3 separate regions of the Homo sapiens genome follow, and all the other regions are reported to be linked to region 3. Evidence: microRNA targets listed by miRTarBase, many of them from high-throughput screens and not tested one by one. Region 3 holds a microRNA gene; each other region holds the end of a gene's coding sequence.

The links. Region 3 holds the annotated microRNA hsa-miR-4731-5p (UGCUGGGGGCCACAUGAGUGUG, at 2,367-2,388, shown strand). A microRNA usually pairs through its seed, bases 2 to 8, with sites in the 3' UTR of a target mRNA and lowers its output. Matches are read on the target gene's strand: a 7mer-m8 pairs with bases 2 to 8, a 7mer-A1 pairs with bases 2 to 7 and ends in A, and an 8mer does both.
Region 1: miRTarBase lists SEC22C as a target of hsa-miR-4731-5p. Seed matches in the 3' UTR shown: 7mer-A1 at 2,560-2,566, 7mer-A1 at 2,691-2,697, 7mer-m8 at 2,775-2,781, 7mer-A1 at 2,908-2,914 and 7mer-m8 at 3,163-3,169.
Region 2: miRTarBase lists SLC35F6 as a target of hsa-miR-4731-5p. Seed matches in the 3' UTR shown: 7mer-A1 at 1,278-1,284 and 8mer at 1,362-1,369.

Annotation. Positions count from the first base shown.
Region 1 is chr3:42,547,052-42,554,167 of GRCh38, reverse strand. It overlaps SEC22C (SEC22 homolog C, vesicle trafficking protein), which reads left to right. Exons shown (of 7, transcript NM_032970.4): 7 at 720-6,199. The coding sequence ends at 920. Among named protein-coding and RNA genes, the nearest start is that of VIPR1-AS1, 18 kb to the right of the region's middle.
Region 2 is chr2:26,778,052-26,785,167 of GRCh38, forward strand. SLC35F6 (solute carrier family 35 member F6) reads left to right here. Exons shown (of 6, transcript NM_017877.4): 6 at 1-3,180. The coding sequence ends at 460. Among named protein-coding and RNA genes, the nearest start is that of CENPA, 4.4 kb to the right of the region's middle. RefSeq lists an enhancer at 6,406-7,116.
Region 3 is chr17:15,246,936-15,254,053 of GRCh38, reverse strand. MIR4731 (microRNA 4731) reads left to right here and starts at 2,358; the gene lies at 2,358-2,427. The region is part of intron 3 of PMP22 (peripheral myelin protein 22); the gene reads left to right.

The DNA of each region.
Region 1 (7,116 bases), not on the chromosome of region 3:
CTCCCTCCCTCTGTAGATTGAACCTTTGTCAGATTGATCCATGTTCAGTGATGTCCTTTTTTTAAAAAAAAAAAACAAAGCATTGAACCAAAATGCCGTTTCCACCTTTTGCAGAACAAGAATGGCCCCTTTTATGTGTGATAGTCATACACAAAATACCAGTCACTCTCCCTGCTGTGAGACCTTTCCCTGACTCAGAGATGCTTTGGAAGACATGATAAGGAGGGTGCCCAAGGGAAGAGTGGTGCTCAATGTAGTCGTGGCTCAGGAGAAACCAAAATAGTAAAAGCATGGCTTTCTCTCACCAGCTTGCTTGCCTGTCCTGGCTCCCTGAAGAAAAACTTCACTGGGGGGCCAGTCAGTCACGTTAGGGTCCCCTGTCTGCAGCCTGGCTGTCTGCAGCTTATGTGCAGCTCTTCTTTCTCTACTGCCAACAGCCTGGTCATTTCTGTCTATTTCTTTAACTTCTTTCAGATGTGCCATGCACTGATTCTTCCTGTGACATCTATTTCACTTTCCTTTAATCTTCCAAATCCTCACTTTCGTCCAATAATTAGCAGCCTAACCAGTGGGTCCACGCTTTACTGTAATGAATTCAGTTTAATCAGCTAATGTGAGAGAAATGACACTCTTCATGGAAGCTGTGGGAGGTGAATTTTGCATATGATCTAGTGGCCATTTTATCTCTGATTGGAATTCCTCTTCTGGTCTCATTTCAGTGTTATTTGTACCTGTTCTACAGTCCAGCCAGGACTATGAAGGTGGTGCTTATGCTGCTCTTTATTTGCCTGGGCAACATGTACCTGCACGGGCTGAGGAACCTCTGGCAAATCCTTTTCCACATAGGAGTGGCTTTTCTGTCTTCATATCAGATACTAACAAGGCAGCTTCAGGAGAAGCAGTCTGACTGTGGAGTATGAGGATGACACTGTGATGAATGGATTCTTTGATTTTCTTTTGAGGATCAATCTATGTTTCTCTTTCTGCTTCTCTACTTTACACTCCAGTTTCCATCCTTTTCAGCCAACTGGACTGAAAAACCAGGAATTGGGGATGTTAAACAGTTGCAGTGGAAGTCATGAGGTTGCTTGATACCCAGCCTTGGTTCTGTGCCAAGCATTACTGCAGGATCTCCAGCCAGTTCAGCACGTTTACCTAGGACAGCTGGATCTGGGGGCTCATCCAGAAAGAGCTTTATTGGAAGAGAGAAAGGAAATATTTTGGTCTTTTAAGTTGAATGATACAGTAAACCACTTGATTCAATAACACTGGTTTTAGTCATTGAGAGTTGTCTCCAAGGAACCACTTTAAAATCCAAATCAGCTTTCAGTCTAAACATAACTTGATTAGTTTTTTTTTTCAGAGGGTCAGTACAGGATGAATTAAAAACCTAAAAATATGGTTCATAAATGTAAGCTAGATAAATTTTGTTTACATTTTTTCAATATCTTAGGTTCGATATACCTTTGGAATATTTAATTATATTTTGGATATAAATTGGACTTCATTTAGGGTGAGGGCAAACTTAAGCTGAGAAAATGGTTAAGAAATCTGAGTTTATTTAATTTATATGTAACCTTTTATAGTGGTGGGACTGTTTGGGTACAGAGATGTTTTATATTTATTTGCAGGGTATATCCGAATATTTTAAAAATTAATTGAATAACCAGTACTTCTAGATGATAAGTTTGTCAGCATGAGCAGAAATGAGAATTTCAGGATTACTTACAATTGACCACAACCTGGAGTAGGTGAATGAACATGGATTCAGTGGCACTTTACAGATCCGCTTGGGAGGGGCTGCTGTCATCAGCCTTTTCAGTAGAGCTGAGTGCCTGTTGTTTTAATGATGATGACTACTGTACCCTGTGTACCTGTTCCCAGAGCGCCTCCAAAATTAATTACTCCTCTGCACCTTTCCCAGTCATCTTAATTAGCTTGAGGGCCTCATTTTTTATGAACAAGAGTTAAGTATCTGTTAACTTTTTAAAGCTTGATAGAGATATAATTAACACATACTCTGGAAAGTTACTCTCTTTCACTGTCAAAAAATTGATTGATCACAGTTTTCCAAAATATGGTTCTGGATAAGATCCCTTAGGTTTCCCGAAATTTCAGCCTGGCTTGTTTTGTACCACGCAGGAGGTCATTTTGGGAGTTTGCTCTTTGGATTGTTCTTGGTAGAAGTCTGGAATCTGAATAGTTCAACCACAGTTGCATGGAACACTTTGAGTGTTCAACTGCATTATGTGGTCTTGATAAATTTTTAAAAATCCTATTTTGATAGTTTTTAAAAGTGGAAAACCATTACAAGAGTTGAGTGGATAGGGAATGTAAGAATGTAGTTTTAGAAAAATTCAATTATATTTGGTTATCACTGGTATTGTATTGTTATTGAGCTACCTTGTTATCATTTTAAGAAAAATAAGTTTATATACTGGGAACTATGTTGGGAAAATGTTGCCATAGTAACTTTATTTTTTATAATAGAATTTTCTATTTTTGACCAAACATAAAATATTTGGATATGGGCCAGGCATGATGGCTCATGCCTGTATTCCCAGCACTTTGGAAGGCCAAAGCAGGAGACTCGGTTGAGGCCAGTAGTTTGAGACCAGCCTGGACAACATAGTAAGATTCATCTCTACAAAAAAAAAAATTAGCCGGATGTGATGGCACATGCCTGTAATCCCAGCACTTTGGGAGTCTGAGGCAGGAGGATCCCTTGAGTCCAGGAGTTTGAGGCTTCCATGAGCTATAATCACACCACTGCACCCCAGCCTGCATGACAGAGTGAAACCCTGTCTCTAAAAAGTCTGAATATGAAAATTATATTGGCAGCATACTCAGACATAAACTCCAAAGTTGTCTCTACACTGATTTCACATCTGCATAATTTTCTGCATACCCAGCAGGTGAATTTTCAGTTTTTCTGGGAGACAATTTTGAAGAGATGGTGAAATAGAATGGGAAGTTAAGGAGGGGAGGTAAAATGTTTTAAATGAGAAGAACAAAAAAGCTTTAAAAGTCAATAACACTTTGGGAAGCTGAGGTGGGCAGATCACGAGGTCAAGAGATCGAGACCATCCTGGCTAACATGGTGAAACCCCATCTCTACTAAAAATACAAAAATTAGCTGGGCACGGTGGCTTGTGCCTGTAGCCCCAGCTACTCAGGAGGCTGAGGCAGGAGAATCTCTTGAACCCGGGAGGTGGAGGTTGCAGTGAGCCGAGATCGAGCCACTGCACTCCAGCCTGGTGACAAAGCAAGACTCCGTCTCAAAAAAAAAAAAAAAAAAAGTCGGTAAGAACGGCTTAAAAATGGACTGTTTTCTTTTCCTATGTGGCATTGGGTTGCCATGTAGACCTGTACCCCAGGTGCTTTGGGCATCTGAGCCTATGATCCATATTCAGCAGGCAGTAAAGAAACGGTCCTTGAAGATGAGTCCTTCCTGGTAATGCTTCCTGACCACCGAGGCACTACCAGAGATGTTATCCACACCAGGTCGAATGTGTGGATATCAGTTAACATCTACATGGGGTGAGATTGACTTTTGCAAACAAAAGGGAAAAGATGCACTAGAAAAACAGTACAAGTAATGACCACAAAAACATTGTTTGACTGAAATCCAGCTAGCTAAAAGAATCCTCAGCTCACTGAAGGAAGAGACTGAAAATAGGAAAGAAGTTCTGGTGATTTCATCCGAGGGAAATCCCCAGGCTTAGGTTTGACTTGGTTCAGGGTTGGAGGTTTATAGCCTCTTGTGTGATCCTTGATACCAGCAAACTGGTTCCAAATCCCAGGAGTTATCCTCACTCCACCATGGACTCACTGTTGTTGTAGCACTTTTGTTTTCCCAGTAGTTAAATGCTACCTGTGCAGCTGACATCACTGGACTAGATCTGGGAATAGATGAAATAATGTTGAAAACAAAACTTTAGAGGTGCCTTCTGGTATCAGATGCTGCAAGGCCTTGAGCATCAGAGTGTGTTAAGTCCCATCTACTGTATCAAGGCCAGAGTGTGGCTCCATGCTCTTAGGAAGGGTTTCCCAACCACGGGGCCAGAGCCCAAAAGGTTTCCCCTTCCCTAATATGCTAATGAACGAAACATGTAAATCTGTTTTCCCCTGTTAGGCTAGTCTTACTGTGATGAGAAGTGTACCTGGCTTTCCTTTTCCTGGGTGGAGACAGCTGGGGCATATTCGGGTGGCATTCCCTCTCAGTACCAGAGGCCCCACTGCCTGCAGCTGGAGGCATGTGACCATAAGCTCCTGCTTTTGCTTTTTGGGCTTGCATCCCTCTTTTCTGTGAACTCTGGAGAATGCTGGAATTAAAACATTTAAGCATTTTGATTAAATGAGCTTGAGCTCCTCTGTTCTTTTCTAGGTGCTCTTGTTCTCCAACTCTCCTGCCTCTTTCTACCTCTGCCCTATACATTCCAGCTCTGGAGACAGAGTCTGAAACTGGAGTCTCTGGAGGGATGAGAAAACCATCTTTAATTGTAACAAATGGGGTGGGTAGACGAGCTTCAGAGTGGGAGCAGATTGCATTGAGGTTCAACTCTCCCACCCATGCCTGGGAGTCAAGTCTTGGAGAGGAGTAACACTTGGTGGTCAGCACAGCTCAGAGTCAGAGACAATAGCCAGCAGGCCAGCAAGGCTGGCTGTGTGAGGCACAGGAAGCAGGGCATAGGTAGGGAGCAGAGCTGGGGGTTCTCTCTCTGCTGGAAGATAGCAGCTGCCCCTTGGCATATGGGGGTTGCACACTGCACCTTGTAGCCAGGGCTGCTATTTGCTGTTCTGTGAAGGAGTTGGCCACTCATTGTGACATGCAGGACAGTGGCCTTCTGAGAACCTGCTGCTTGCTTGCATAGTGCAGCACAAGTGAGGACAGGCAGGGGTGGGAGCATTTATGGTGATCAGATGTGCCTGGCAAGCCCCTGTTCAGACATTGCTCACATTCCAAATGTTTTCGTGTAGAATATTGCACAGGTCTGGGGACGCTCTACCTGTGCCCTGTGAGTGTTAATAATGGTGGAGAAAGAGTGTAGCTGTGCCCTTGAGAGAGAAGGTGAGGGAAAGAGTGCACCAGTCAGCTGACCGTCAGCTGGCTAGGCTCTTCACTGAGTCCTATGTCGCAGTGCACAAATCACTGCCCATCAGGCCTCAGTTTCCTCATCTGGTAAATGGTGATAACATCAATCTGCCCCCCCGCCAGGGTGCTGTTATGAGGGTCAAAAGTGGTAGTGGAGGGTAATACTGGGTGAGTCCATTGTGTGTGGGAGGAGAAAGGCTTTACATTCACCTGGTACATGAAGGTTTTTCTGCTTCAGGCAGCACAGCACAGCCATTTCTTCTGGCCTTTACAAAAAGGCATTTTGTTATACTACAGTGTAAACCTCATTTTTTTCACTCCAAAAGGTAGCAGCCCCTCTTCTTCCCACCCTGGACCTGCCTTTCACTCCCTGGGCACAGAGCGCATGGTACCATTGATGTTTGGTTTATTCCAGGATCCAAGGAGCTGGTTCTGCTGGTTGGACCAAACCTCGTGAGCCAGCCACCCCTGACCCAAATGAGGAGAGCTCTGATTCTCCCATCCGGGAGCAGTGATGTCAAACTTCTGCTGCTGGGGAAATCTCATCAGCAGGGAGCCTGTGGAAAAGGGCATGTCAGTGAAATCTGGGAATGGCTGGATTCGGAAACATCTGCCCATGTGTATTGATGGCAGAGCTGTTGCCCACAAGCGCCTTTTATTTAGGGTAAAATTAACAAATCCATTCTATTCCTCTGACCCATGCTTAGTACATATGACCTTTAACCCTTACATTTATATGATTCTGGGGTTGCTTCAGAAGTGTTATTTCATGAATCATTCATATGATTTGATCCCCCAGGATTCTATTTTGTTTAATGGGCTTTTCTACTAAAAGCATAAAATACTGAGGCTGATTTAGTCAGGGCAAAACCATTTACTTTACATATTCGTTTTCAATACTTGCTGTTCATGTTACACAAGCTTCTTACGGTTTTCTTGTAACAATAAATATTTTGAGTAAATAATGGGTACATTTTAACAAACTCAGTAGTACAACCTAAACTTGTATAAAAGTGTGTAAAAATGTATAGCCATTTATATCCTATGTATAAATTAAATGAGGTGGCTTCAGAAATGGCAGAATAAATCTAAAGTGTTTATTAACATGTGTCTTTGCACTTATGTGAAAAATTCCGAGTTATGGATCCTTTGCTAGACAGTGTGATGTGGGCCTGACATAATGGGAGGGGGTTGTTGAAAGAAGTGAAAGTCAGGTCATCTTGTCCAGTGAGGCCTAGACAGGCGCAAGGGCTCAAATAGTCTTTAGTACTAACCCCCAACCAAAATAGCAGTCACAACAATGCCCTGGGGGCTGGGAGGCCTCCCCAGTTTGCAGGCTCTGCCCCTGCCCTGCTATGTGCAGCAGGCACTTTCCGTGCTCCGCGTTTTGGGCTCTTGTCTACTGTGAAGGTGAAGTTTCATCTCCCAGGACCAGCCTGACCACAGAATGGCCACCAGGGGGCGCAGCTGCCGGCCACCTCCTCAGGTTTCCAGCCAAGGGAAGGTGGCCTTTAGCAAAGGCTGTTCCTATAGCAGCTAATAAAATTCCCAGAAAGAAAGCAAATGCACTATCCTCTCCTGACCATCCTCTAAACACATTGGGGAATTCACTCTCCAAGAGTCTCTGCACCATCTGTCCTGAATCAGAATCTTTTGGAGGAAGGCAGTGACTTCCAAAATAAACATCTGAGTTATTGGGTGCTGGGATTTGGTAGTTGATAGTTTTCAGACACCATCTGCTTTAACCACTTTTTTGCTCAGGTTGAGAAGCTGAGGCTTGTTCTAGGGAGCCAGTGACAGTAAAGTTTGGAGCTCTGTTTCCCCTGAGGAGGAAACAAGTGGCTGTCCCCCACTTGGCAATACCCACAAAGAATAAAAGATGTTCCTTCTATGCCAGGAGGGCTGGATGAGAAGTTCTGGCTGGTGAGTTGCCTTCTTTTTTCTTGGGGCCTACCCCTTGAAGGGGCCCAGGTAGCAGAAGTGCTACCTGACAGCTGCCAAGCATCTTTGGGCAGTGCTAG
Region 2 (7,116 bases), not on the chromosome of region 3:
CTTTGTGATCCTCTCCCTGCTGCTGGTGCCCATGTACTACATCCCCGCCGGCTCCTTCAGCGGAAACCCTCGTGGGACACTGGAGGATGCATTGGACGCCTTCTGCCAGGTGGGCCAGCAGCCGCTCATTGCCGTGGCACTGCTGGGCAACATCAGCAGCATTGCCTTCTTCAACTTCGCAGGCATCAGCGTCACCAAGGAACTGAGCGCCACCACCCGCATGGTGTTGGACAGCTTGCGCACCGTTGTCATCTGGGCACTGAGCCTGGCACTGGGCTGGGAGGCCTTCCATGCACTGCAGATCCTTGGCTTCCTCATACTCCTTATAGGCACTGCCCTCTACAATGGGCTACACCGTCCGCTGCTGGGCCGCCTGTCCAGGGGCCGGCCCCTGGCAGAGGAGAGCGAGCAGGAGAGACTGCTGGGTGGCACCCGCACTCCCATCAATGATGCCAGCTGAGGTTCCCTGGAGGCTTCTACTGCCACCCGGGTGCTCCTTCTCCCTGAGACTGAGGCCACACAGGCTGGTGGGCCCCGAATGCCCTATCCCCAAGGCCTCACCCTGTCCCCTCCCTGCAGAACCCCCAGGGCAGCTGCTGCCACAGAAGATAACAACACCCAAGTCCTCTTTTTCTCACTACCACCTGCAGGGTGGTGTTACCCAGCCCCCACAAGCCTGAGTGCAGTGGCAGACCTCAGCTCTCTGGACCCCTCCTACAGCACTAGAGCTAAATCATGAAGTTGAATTGTAGGAATTTACCACCGTAGTGTATCTGAATCATAAACTAGATTATCATAGTTATCTAGTTTATGAGTCATAAGCTAGATTTGATTCTTCAAAGAAGAAAAGTCAGTGAGCAAATTTAAACCAGAACTAAGCATTATATTTTCTTTTTTTTTTTTTGAGACAGAGTCTCGCTCTGTCGCCCAGGCTGGAGTGCAGTGGCACGATCTCGGCGGCTCACTACAACCTCTGCCTCCCAGGTTCAAATGATTCTCCTGCCTCAGCCTCCCGAGTAGCTGGGATTACAGGTGCATAACACACCTGGGTAACTTTTATAGAGATGGGGTTTCACCATGTTGGCCAGGCTGGTCTCAAACTCCTGACCTCAGGTGATCTGCCTGCCTCGGCCTCCCAAAGTGCTGGGATTACAGGCGTGAGACACCACACCCAGCCATAACTAAGCATTATGTTTTCTAAAACTTCTAAGATCCTCCCTAAACCCGTCTGGAGACATGGGTTTTAGCCCAGACTCTGCCTCAAACTCATTGTAGCTCCCAGCACATTACCCAGTTGCTCTGGGCCTTGGTGTTATGCTCTGGGAAGTAGATGTTGATGCTGTGGCCTTAGTGCCTTCTGGCCCCAGCATTCCATGGGCCTGTGATCTTGACCAACCTGAGAAAACAGTAACAGCCCATCCACTGGAAATACCCCTCTGCCCACAGCACCACCCTTCTGTGCTGTTTTTTTTGTTGTTTGTTTGTTTCTTCTTTTTGAGACAGAGTCTTGCTCTGTTGCCACGCTGGAGTGCAGTGGTGTGATCTCGGCTCACTGCAACCTCCCGCTCCCAGGTTCAAGCAAGTCCCCTGAGTAGCTGGGACTACAGGCGTGTGCCACCACATCCGGCTAATTTTTTGCATTCTTTAATAGAGACGGGGTTTTGCCATGTTGGCCAGGATGGTCTCAATCTCCTGACCTCATGATCCACCTGCCTCAGCCTCCCAAAGTGCTGGGGTTACAGGCATGAGCCACCACGCCCAGCCTTTTTTTTTTTTTTTTTTTTTTCTTGAGAGACAGGGTCTTGCTCTGTCACCCAGGCACAGCTTACTGCAGCCTTGAACTCCTGGGATCAATCAGTCCTCCTGCCTCAGCCTCCCGAGTAGCTAAGACTAACAGGTATGTACCACCATGCCTGGTTTATTGTTTTATTTTTTTGGCAGAGATGGGTCTCACTGTGTTGCCCAGGCTGATCTCAAACTCCTGGCCTCAAGCGATCCTCCCATCTCAGCCTCCCAAAGTGCTGGGATTACAGACCTGAGCCACCACACCTGGGCAACAGAGTGAAACCTGTCCCTGTTTTCCTGCTCTTACTCTCACCTCTGAGGCCTCCTCTGCCTGGAAGAGATTACAGGGAAATTCCAGGCAGCCCTTGTCAATTGTTTTTATGAATTCTTTACCTGTTCCTTTTAAAGACAAGGAAACTGAGGCCCAAAGTTCTAAGTTGTTTGGCAAATGGAGTCTCCTACCCTCAGCTCCTGCAAGGACCTGGGGGACCCCCAGGTCCAGCAGCCACATGATTCTGCAGCAGACAGGGACCTAGAGCACATCTGGATCTCAGCCCCACCCCTGGCAACCTGCCTGCCTAGAGAACTCCCAAGATGACAGACTAAGTAGGATTCTGCCATTTAGAATAATTCTGGTATCCTGGGCGTTGCGTTAAGTTGCTTAACTTTCATTCTGTCTTACGATAGTCTTCAGAGGTGGGAACAGATGAAGAAACCATGCCCCAGAGAAGGTTAAGTGACTTCCTCTTTATGGAGCCAGTGTTCCAACCTAGGTTTGCCTGATACCAGACCTGTGGCCCCACCTCCCATGCAGGTCTCTGTGGGGTCTTTGGGATGGATCTCCTAGGGCTGGGCTGGAAGCCTCATGTACTGTTGTCTTCTAGGTAACCACCCTGAAGAGAAGGGGTGGCATCAGGAACCGCAGGGAACCAAGCAGCCTTTGGTCCAGTGCTGCTCCTTGGAACAGTTGAGTGTGGCCTCAAACCATTCTCCTGGGTAGCTCAGTCATAAAACACCGAATGCCTGCCTCAAAATAGCCTCTGAGGGAAGGGAGCTGTTGACAAGTGAAGCCCTCAGGTTGTGTGGGATTCCAGCAGGTTATTACAGCTTGTGGGGGGAGGGAGGGTCCATTCCACCAGCTTTGAATCCCAGGGTCCCCTCAGCTTCACTGGGCCACAGTGTCTGTCCCAGGAAGAAGCAAATGGACAGTGAGGATGATGGAGAGACTACAGCTGCCTTGTCTAAAACCTGGGATCTTAAAAGTGTTATTTTGGCTTTTATTTTTTAAAAAAAGAAAAGGAAAATTGGCAATTGTATTAATCCATTCTCGAATTGCTGTAAAGAAATACCTGAGACTGGGTAATTTAATTTATAAAGAAAAGAGGTTTAATTGGCTCACAGTTCTGCAGGCTATACAGGAAGCATAGTAGCTTCTGCTTCTGGGGAGGCCTCAGGAAACTTACAATCATAGTGGAAAGGCAAAGGGGAAGCAGACACATCTTATGTGGCCAGAGTAGGAGCAAGGGGGCGCAGGAGGAGGTGCCACACACGTTTTAAACACCCAGATCTCACAAGAACACTCAAGAGGACAGTACCAAGTGGAATGCTGTTAAACCATTCATGAGAAATGCACCCCCATGATCCAGTCACCTCCCACTAGGCCCCACCTCCAAGATTGGGGATTACATTTCAATATGAGATTTGGGTGGGGACACACATCCAAACTATATCAGCAGTACTGGACATTTTTCATGAGAGAGAAGGGGCACAAGAGGATGTCTGGAGCTAGCCTCTAGAATGTTGGTGTGGAAAATCTCTCCAATGTTTGAAAAGCATACCAATTACCTAGTCCTCCATTCATTGTTCAAATGAAGAAACCCAAAAAGCAGAAGTAACTTCCCAAGGGTCACACAGTCAGTTAACAGGCAAAAGCCAGATGTCCTGGTTCTCAATCCTCGCCTGTCCCATTCTGCCACAGATACTGCAGCCAGAGGCCAGGCATGGTGGCTCACGCCTGTAATCCCAGCACTTTGGGAGGCCGAGGTGGGTGGTTCACCTGAGGTCAGAAGTTCGAGACCAGCCTGGCCAGCATGGCAAAACCCTGTCTCTAGTAAACATACAAAAATTAGCTGGGCATGGTGGCACAAGCCTGTAATCTCAGCTACTCAGGAGGCTGAGGCAGGAGAATCACTTGAACCCGGGAGGCAGAGTTTGCAGTGAGCCAAGATCACGCCACTGCACTCCAGCCTGGGCAACAGTGAGACTCAGTCTCAAAAAAGAAAAAAAAGCTTAAAAATAAAGATATAAACCGGGTGCGGTGGCTCACGCCTGTAATCCCAGCACTTTGGGAGGCTGAGGTGGGTGGATCACGAGGTCAGGAGATCGAGACCATCCTGGCTAACACGGTGAAACCCCGTCTCTACTAAAAGTACAAAAAATTAGCCGGGCATGGTGGCGGGGGCCTGTAGTCCCAGCTACTTGGGAGGCTGAGGCAGGAGAATGGTGTGAACCTGGGAGGCGGAGCTTGCAGTGAGCCGAGATCGGGCCACTGCACTCTAGCCTGGGCGACAGAGTGAGACTCCGTCTCAAAAAAAAAAAAAAAAAAAAAAAGATATAAAGAAAAAATGTTTTTGTATACTTGCAGTGTGTGTTTTAAGCTAAGTGTTATTACAAGAGTCAAATTTTACAGTTCAAAAGCTTATAAAGTTAAAACGTTACCATTAAGCTAAGATTAATTTATTATTGAAGAAGGAAAATTTTTCTTTTTAGAGACAGAGTCTTGATCTGTTGCTGTCACTGGGGTGCAGTGGCATGATCCTATCTCACTGTAGCCTTAAACTCCTGGGCTCAAGTGATCCTCCTGCCTCAGCCTCCCGAGTAGCTGGCACTACAGGCATGCACCACCGTGCCCAGCTAATTGTTTTTATTTCCTGCGGAGATGGGGTCTCACCACGTTGCCCAGACTGATCTCGAACTACTGGGCTCAAACAATGCTCCTGCCTTGGCCTTCCAAAATTTTAGGATTACAGGGGTGAGCCAGTGTACCCAGCCCATTTTTTATACTGTTTTTTTACTGTGCCTTTTCTAGGTTACATATGTTAGATACACAAATACCATTGCATTACAGTTGCCTACAGTATTCAGTACAGGAACATGCTGCACAGGTTTGTCGCCTAGGAGCAATAGGCTATACCATATAGCCAAGGTGTGTGATACACTATACCATCCAGGTTTGTGTAAGTACACTTTATGATTGCACAATGACAAAATCGTCTAACAACACATTTCGCAGAGCATATCCCCATTGTTAAGCATGGGAACTGTATAATGCCTTTATTATATATACATGACTATATAATAAGGGCTATATGATAAGCCAGAGTTACCATGGCACCACAAAATGTTTTTTAAAAAATCAGCCAAGTGGCAGGGTGCGGTGGCTCACGCCTGTAATCTCAGCACTTTGGGCGTGGTGGCACACGCCTGTAGTCCTAGCTACTTGGAAGGCTGAGGCAGGGGAATCGCTTGAACCCGGGAGGCAGAGGTTGCAGTGAGTGGTGGTCGCACCACTGCACTCCAGCCTGGTGACAAAGTAAGACTCCATCTCAAAAAAAAAAAAAAAAAAAATTAGCCAAGTGTGATGGTACATTCCTGTTAGTCCCAGCTACTCAGGAGGCTGAAGTGGGAGGATTGCATGAGTCCAGCAGTTCAAGGCTGCAGTTAGCTGTGATTGCACCACTATACTCCAGCCTAGACAATAGTGCAAGACCCGGTTGTGGGGCGGGGTTAATATATATATATATATATATACACACACACACACAACATAGAATTTACCATTTTAACCAGTTTTAAGTGTACAGTTCAGTGGCGTTAAGCACGTTCACAGTGTTGTGCAACCATCACCACCATCCATATCCAGAATTTTTCATCTTCTCAAACTAAAACTCCCCACCTATTAAATACTAACTCCCCATTCCTCCCTTACTCACTGGCAACCACCATTTTACTTTCTGTCTCTATGAGTTCCGTTATTCCAGGTACCTCATACAGTATTTGTCCTTTTTTTTTTTTTTTTTTGGAGACAGAGTCTTGCTCTATTGCCCAGGCTGGAGTGCAGTGGCACAATCTCAGCTCACTGCAACCTTCCCCTCCTAGGTTCAAGCAATTCTCCTGCCTCAGCCTCCCGAGTAGCTGGGACTACAGGCCCGTGCCACCACGCCCGGCTAATTTTTTGTATTTTTAGTAGAAGCGGGTTTTCACCAGGTTAGCCGGGATGGTCTCGATCTCCTGACCTCATGATCCACTGGCCTCAGCCTCCCAAAGTGCTGGGATTATACAGGCATGAGCCACCACACCCGGCCTTGTCCTTTTTTTTTTTCTTTTTTTTTGAGAGAGGTGCCACTCTGTCGCCCAGGCTGGAGTGCAGTGCCACAATCATGGCTCAGTTCAGCCTCAACCTCCTGGACTCGAGCGATTCTCCCACCTCAGCCTCCTGAGTAGCTGGGGCGACAGGCATACATCTGCACGCCCGGGCTAATTTGTGTGTGTGTGTATCTTTGGTAGAGGTGGGGTTTCTTTCTTCCTTCTCCTCCTTCTCCTTCCCCTTCTCTTTTTTTTTTTTTTTTTTTTTTGAGACAGAGTCTCACTCTTGTCGCCTAGGCTGGAGTGCCGTGGCATGATTTCGGCTCACTGCAACCTCCGCCTTTCAGGTTCAAGCAACTCTGCCTCAGCCTCCTGAGTAGCTGGGATTACAGGCGTGAGCCACAGCACCTGGCAAATTTTTATATTTTTAGTAGAGACGGGGTATCGCCATGTTGGCCATGCTGGTCTTGAACTCCTGACCTCGGGTGATCTGCCTGCCTCGGCCTCCCAGAGTGCTGGGTTTACAGGCGTGAGCCACCACGCTCGGCAAGATGGAGTTTCGCCATGTTGGCCAGGTTGGACTCGAACTCGAACTCAGTGGTTCCGAACAACTTGGCCTCCCAAAGCGCTGGGATTACAGGCATGAACCACCGCACCCCAGCCCAGCATTTGTCCCTTGGTGGACTGCTTTATTTCACTTAGCATAACGTCCTCAAGGTTCATCTATGTTGCAGCAGGTGTCAGAATTCCCTTCCTTTTAAAGGCTGAATAACATTGTGGTATACACCCCATTTTGTTTATCCGTTCATCTGTTGGTGTGTATTCAGGCTGTTTCTGCCTTCGGGCTGTTGTGAAGAATGCCGCTATCAACATGGGTGTGAGAATATCTGTTCAAGTCCCTGGCTATATTTAAATTCTTTTGGATATTTAGCCAGAAGTGGAATTACTGGATCATCTGGTAATTCT
Region 3 (7,118 bases):
CCTGAAATGTGAACTTCCCACTTCGGGAGTCTCTCCATTTCTCTTCTGATCTTTCATGCAGGACTATTTCTTGAACAACTCTCGTGTACCAGAGACTATTGCAGGTGCTAAGGTTACAAGAGTGAACAAGAGCTTATGTTTTACTGGACAAACCAGTCAGTAAACATGGAGAATTTGGGGGCAATGGTAAGAACTATATAAGACAGGGTAATGGGATAAAGAGGGATTGCAGTGGTGAAGGAAGGTCTCCTTGAGGAGTGGCCAGGAGCCAGCCATATGAACATCTCGGGGAGGTTCCATACAGAAGGACCGTCAAGTGCAAGATCGCTGGGGAGGGAAGGAGCTTGGCGTAGTTGAGGGACAGAGGGCAGGGCAGACTAGTGGGAACAGAGAGTGAGGGGTAAGTAGAATCACAGACCATCTCAAAGGTACCCCCCACCCCCACTAGGAAGGAGTTGGGTGCACATGGATGCATTTCTAATCTTTGTGATTTCCTTAGACCTGCTGTCTTCCACGGGTTTCTCAGTGGTCCATTTGATTCCAAGTTGGAGTGACAGTCCAGAAGCCTCTATAAGGCAGAATATATCAGAAATTGTACAAGGTAGAAATGCATCGGTATATTTTCAGTGATTATTTTGGGTGACGGGATTCTTATCACTTTGGCTGTTTTCTTTCTTTTGCTGCCTTACCTGTTTTCCTCATTGAGATCTTTTATTTTCACAATCAGAAAATAACTGTGAACATTTTATGTTAGAAAATTGGTTTTGAGTAGTAAGTAGGTTCCCTCTGCCTTGATTAAGAGAGTGGAGCCCTGGGGCATGGCACGCAGGGTCCATGGCGTCGCTTTGAATGAGGCCAGTTCCTGGAGCTTTAGTTTGCAAACTCATACAATCTGGAAGGCTCTGGTGAGGGGGAGGGGTGTGCCAAGCCTCCTCCCCAAGACCCTATGGGTGAGTTTAAAATCTACTGACCCAAAGGATTCAGGCAAAACATTTGCCCTGCTATTGAATGAACCAGTGCTTTTTGTTTTGAAGTCTCCAAGATCCAAATATCAAGTCCAAGTTCTCACAAGCATTCCCCTGCTTTTTGTTTAATTTGTGTGGACCTGACGTGTAGCAGAATGGGTCAGAATACTGGAATTAAGCCACAGGCGGCTTGGGAGCCCAAGAGCTAGAAGGGCACAGTCCTGGCTTGCCCTGGCCCCTGGCTGGTCTTCATCAGCTTCAGTGATGAGGCAGGACCCAGGCAGTTTGTCTTCAGTAAAATCTGTCTCTCAGGGCCTGTCCCTGCTCACAAAGTCCTCTCTTGTCTCAGAAGAAAAGGTAGTTGATAAACTTTTTCATGCTGAGGTGTTAGGCACAAAAAATGTGCCCCTTTTTGAATCACTTTTGTTTTTAAAAAGGAGGCCAGTGCTCAACACCAAAGCATGAAGGGAATTGTTGAGCTTTCCTGTAATCTGTCCCCAAACGTCCTTGGCCACCTCCATTGTCTAAGGGCAGTACCTGCAGCCCCTCATTTCCCAGTGACAACAGGTGGGTCTGCTCTGCCACAGTGTGTGGGCGGGACCAGCACCAGACGCTGAGAAGATGACCACTTACTACTCTTCTTTTCCATTTAAACAGCAGCAGCAGCAGCAGCAGCAGCAGCAGCAGCAGCAACAGCAAACTCATGACTATCAATAGGTTGTGTGAGGAATTAGATCAATGCTTTGGGTTGAAAATTAGAGAAACTAAATCTTGCCAGTCTCAGCAGCCCCCAACCTGAGCCCTTGGTGGTCTCCTATCATCGCTGTCTTCAAAACGATCCCAGACTTGTTTATCAATTTGGTGACACTGTCATTTTGGCAAGGACACCAGACAATTTCCTTGTCTGTGGCTCAGCTTTTGGCCAGATTTTAGAAAACACGGGAGACCTTCTGCATTTATGGGTTCATGTTTTACATTTTAAAATCTTCGTGGCTCCCTCAGCCAACCCATAATCTCTACCCAAGGAATGGCTCTGGATTTTACAGGCTCTTATGAGATGCTGAGACCCTGGTGGTACAAGGGAGGTACAGAGGACGGAATGTGTTGTCAACATGCCAGGATTTCAACCCTTAGGGTTTCTCTGATGCCAATACCCAGGAATTAGTATGAAATGTTTGTTTGAACCTGTGTCTGAACTGTATGACCTGGAATCTATAGTCTTTGCTTTAAAAAAACTTCAATTGTATCCCCAAGATTTCACCAGCACCAAGAAAACATCCCTTGCATTTCAGGAGCAGGGACTGGCCATGGTGCAGCCTGAGGTTGTGGATGTTGATCTTTGGTGCCCGAGAGAAGGCTGTCTGGGATGAAGCCTTCTGACTGTGGTCAGGTCCCTGCCAGTGCTGGGGGCCACATGAGTGTGCAGTCATCCACACACAAGTGGCCCCCAACACTGGCAGGGACCCGGAGTCATCTGGCCCATCCCTCCTTCCTATCCCATCGAGCCACAGACCCCTCTGCAATATGCCTACCACATGTTCATCCTACCACTGATGGGGAACTTATTACCTTCAAGAGAGCCTCTTTTGTTTTTGAAGAGCTAATAGTGAGATCCATTCATGTGTTCTTCAACTCTATTGAGCCTGTCCTATGTACTGGGCACTGTTCTAGAAATGGGGTGCACAGAGATGAACAAGAAAGAGCAGGTCCCTGCCATTGTGCAGCTCACAAGGAGTTGGAGGAAACAGGCAATACACAATACATGCATCACTATGGGTAGTGGAACATGCTCTGCAGGAAACAAATAGGGTGATCCAATGGAAAGTCATCACTGGAGGAATGAGCTGCTCAGGGAAGGCCTCTTCCTTCCATAGTGATGTGGTCTGAGATTTAGAAGACAGGGAAGGACCAGTTATAGGAAGAACCATGGGAAGAAAATTCTAGGAGGTAAAGGGAAGAACCAAGGCCCTGAGTTAGCTGAAGAAAGGAGGGTGGGGAATGCGGGAGAGAGGGATGGGAGCAGGATCGCTGGTGCCTCACAGGCTGTGGTACTGAGAAGGACAGTTGGGACATCATTGAAGGGTTTTAAGCAGAAGAGTGTCATGATTTGATTCATGTTTTGTAAGCTCATTCTGGCTGTTGAGAATGAATTCTGGGGAGAGGCAAGAGTGGAAACTGGGGACCAGTGAGGAGTTTGTGGTCATAGTCCAGACTGGACATGATGATGACACTGAGATGACAATGATGACAATGACAATGATGTTAAGAATACAAACAGCTCACGTAAGTGCCAGGCATTCTTTGAAAAGCAATGCATTTAATCCTCACAAGAACTCTAGGAGGTAGCTGGTGGCTTAGCTAGGGAGGGGAAGTAGAGAAGAAAACAGGTCTCATGACAGGGTTTGCTGATGGGTTAGATGTAGGGAGTTAGGGAAGAATGATTCTAGATGACTCTACGTTTTGGGCTTGAGCAACTGGTGTGTAACTGAATCTTGGACTGAGATGGGGAGACTGGAGGAGGAACAGAAGATTTGCGGGAAGGTGTAGAAATCAGGATTTATATTTTGACCATCAGAGAGGTCAGCAAATCACTTCAATTTAGAAGTCTTTGGCTTAGGGGAGAGGTCTGGGCTGGAAATTCAAAGTCAAGAGTCATTCCTCTATACCGAAGGGTATTCAATGTTGTGGTGCTGAATACAGTTACTTGGGGAGGAGTTGAGAGCAGAAGGCAGAAAAGGGGAACAGGGTTCAGAGCTAAGTCTTGGGCATGCCAGGGGTTAACGAGGGTACAGGAAGGAGAGGAGACTGGGGATGAACAGCCAGTGATGAGGGAGGAATGCCAGGAGATATTGTCACTTAAGAAATTACCTCGGCTGGGCGCGGTGGCTCACGCCTATAATCCCAGCACTTTGGGAGGCTGAGGCGGGCGGATTACAAGGTCAGGAGATTGAGACCATCCTGGCTAACACGGTGAAACCCTGTCTCTACTAAAAATACAAAACAAAATTAGCCGGGCGTGGTGGCCGGTGCCTGTAGTCCCAGCTACTCGGGAGGCTGAGGCAGGAGAATGGCGTGAACCCGGGAGGCGGAGCTTGCAGTGAGCCGAGATCGCACCACTGCACGCCAGCCTGAGCGACAGAGTGAGACTCCGTCTCAAAAAAAGAAATTACCTTGTTAAACCCAACACTGCCCCTCTTTTGTCCATTCACTTCTAGTTGCCTTCATTCATGCCTGATGTGCTGGACTTGGGTTTTATCAAGTTGCTTGGCACGTCCTTAAAGAATTTAAATCTCCACAGTGCCTCCTGGACAATGACTGCAGGGTGACCCCCGTCTCTCCTCTACACGATGACTCTTCAAACAGTTGACGATTGCAGTTTTTCTTTCCTTCCTTCTTTCAGTGGCTTCTCTGGTGCTGGTCCCAGCTGCATAAGCAGGGCCTCTTCTTGCCCTTCTGAAGTTTGGTCAGTGGTTTGGCTTGGCAGGCTGATGAGCAGAGAATAAGGGAAGCCGCTCTCTCTTTGCCACACCATTCTCCTTCCACCCTCTCTAGTTTTTGTGGATTCTAAGTCTGAAGAATGGTGGTAGAATAATTTAATTCATTAGATTGCAAGCATATCATTGACTTCTCTGCACCCCCAGTGTGTTGTAGTGGAAAAACTAGTAGTCTGGGCATCAGGGAATCCTTGTTTTTCTGCACCGGGTCTGCCTGTAACAAATTAGGTAACCTGGGGCAGGTACCCTGGTTTCCTAAAAGCAGAGCAGGCATTGAGGTAGGACCTGAAGTTGAGGTAGGACCTGCACATTGCATGGGTCCCGGAGCCTCTGTTCATGTTCAGGATGTAATTGTGGCATCGAGGGATCCTAAAAGGAGGTGGCCTCTGAGCTGGGCCTTGGCAATGGGGTAGAATTGCAGTAGGCAGAGGGAGCAGAGATGGGTTTTGTGCTTGTAAACGGGCATTGGTTTACTGTCACTGGTGGGGGTAGCAGCTCTTTTGTTCTAGCTCTTCATTTCCATAATGCGTGTTCTTTTTTCATACTTTAGGGGAAAGAAGGAGGAGAACTCTATTATTTCTATGGGGAGAATTCCTCCTAAACCTGAAGATCTTAAAACTAAGCGAATTATTCCCTGTTCATTCTCCACTGATGCAGTTCATGACTGCAATTGCAACTGCCTTTCCCGTCATTTTCTATGGCCAAACTCAGTGTTTTTAAGTGAGCTCTTCTTTTAAAAAACAAAAACAAAAACAAGTCTCCTGATAAATCCGTTTGAAAGACACTAAGTTTTGAAAGTTAAGCAGGCTTTGATCATTCATGGTACATTGTGAATTACCAAGGAGGGAGATTGATATCCTTCATCGTACAATGCACTCCCCTCCTTTTTCTTTTGTATCTGGTGGAGTAAGTCTTCCAAGAGCAATTCTTAGAGAAACAAAGCCTACTCTGTTTCCCTGTTTCTAGAGTTTTCCAACAAGGGTATAAAAAAGCCTCAGACAGCTTACTATTATCCAGTAACCTCAGGTACCTCAGTGGCTGCGTGTTATTCCCTTTAGAAGTCCAAAAACTCACTAGCAGAGCAAGAATATGGATGTCAAAGTGCAGAACTAGACCCTGACAAACTAGCTCTGTGCCTGCCACAAAGCCTCTTAATTAGGAATGCAGTTCATTGAATAACTGTATCAAAGTTAGCTGGAATACCTTGACATGAAGATTCCTTCCACTTACTGAGCAGTTTGTGCCCACTAGTGGCCAGACACAGGCTTTGCTCTAGCTAAAATACCCCCAGGATTACCTGTTGAGAGAGCCGCCCACGTCACCTTCATCGCCTTTGTGAGCTCCATGCTGGCACATAGTTGTCTCCATCTGTTTTGCTTTCCGCATGAATCATAGGCAAAGTTAGCCTGACCAGCAAGCCCATTTCAAAGCCACCAGCTGGGGGAGAAGTTGAAGCCCAGGGGGCAAGACCCACGCTGGGCTTTGGGCATGTTTGAGCTGGTGGGCGAAGCATATGGGCAAAGGCCACATTGTTTAGGATGGAGGCCTTTCAGAGACTCAGCTATTTCTGGAATGACATTCATACTGAGAAATAAGGAAAATGGCGATCTGTGTGATGGTTGTGGGTTGGGAGGTTTGGGCGTGGGAGTCCTGGTCTTGGGGTCATGTGTTTTGAAAACAGTCTAGCACTATGCAAATGGGAGGTGTTAATAACTCTTTGCCTCTGTGATTTACCCTCTCATGGCTTTTTCTCTCTTGGCCTCTCCAAGGTCTCTTCTGACTCTTGCAACTGTCCTTCCTTTCACTTTCAACAAAACCTGTTCTCTTGAGTCAGAACAGTTTTATGAATTGCCCAGAGTGGGACTTGATATGGGGCAGGGTTGGTTCCATGCTGGTAATGAAAGATGCACATAAACTGTTACATTGAAAAGTGCTTCATACTTTCTGAGCCCTTAACTCACTAGGTTGTAGGCCCTGGGCTAAGAATATAGCTGAGGGGGCTGATGTATTTCCTTCATTGCTCAGCTGCTCCTACAGCAGGAATCTGACCTTGAAATGAGCTTTGATCTTTGTGCAACTCGAGCTTCCCACTATCTGCTGGGGGAGCTAGGTCTGGGTGCTGCCACGGCCCATGTCAGAAAGCTGTCAGCAGCTCTTATACCGGACACTCTCAGAACAGGAGGCCTGCAAAGAGCTTTAGCTTTAGTTTTGTTGTTGTTGTTGTTTTTGAGACAGTCTCGCTCTGTCGCCCAGGCTGGAGTGCAGTGGCGCCATCTCGGCTCACTGCAAGCTCCACCTCCCGGGTTCACACCATTCTCCTGCCTCAGCCTCCCAAGTAGTTGGGACTACAGGTGCCCGCCACCACGCCCAGCTAATTTTTTGTATTTTTAGTAGAGACGAGGTTTCACCGTGTTAGCCAGGATGGTCTCAATCTCCTGACCTCGTGATCCACCCGCCTTGGCCTCCCAAAGTGCTGGGATTACAGGTGTGAGCCACGGCGCCCGGCCTTTTTTTTTTTTTTTTTTTTGAGACGAGTCTTGCTCTGTTTCCAGGCTGGAGTGCAGTGGTGTGATCTCGGCTCACTGCAGTCTCCGCCTTCCGGGTTCAAGTGATTCTCCTGCTCCAGCCTCCCAAATAGCTGGGATTACAGGCACATGCC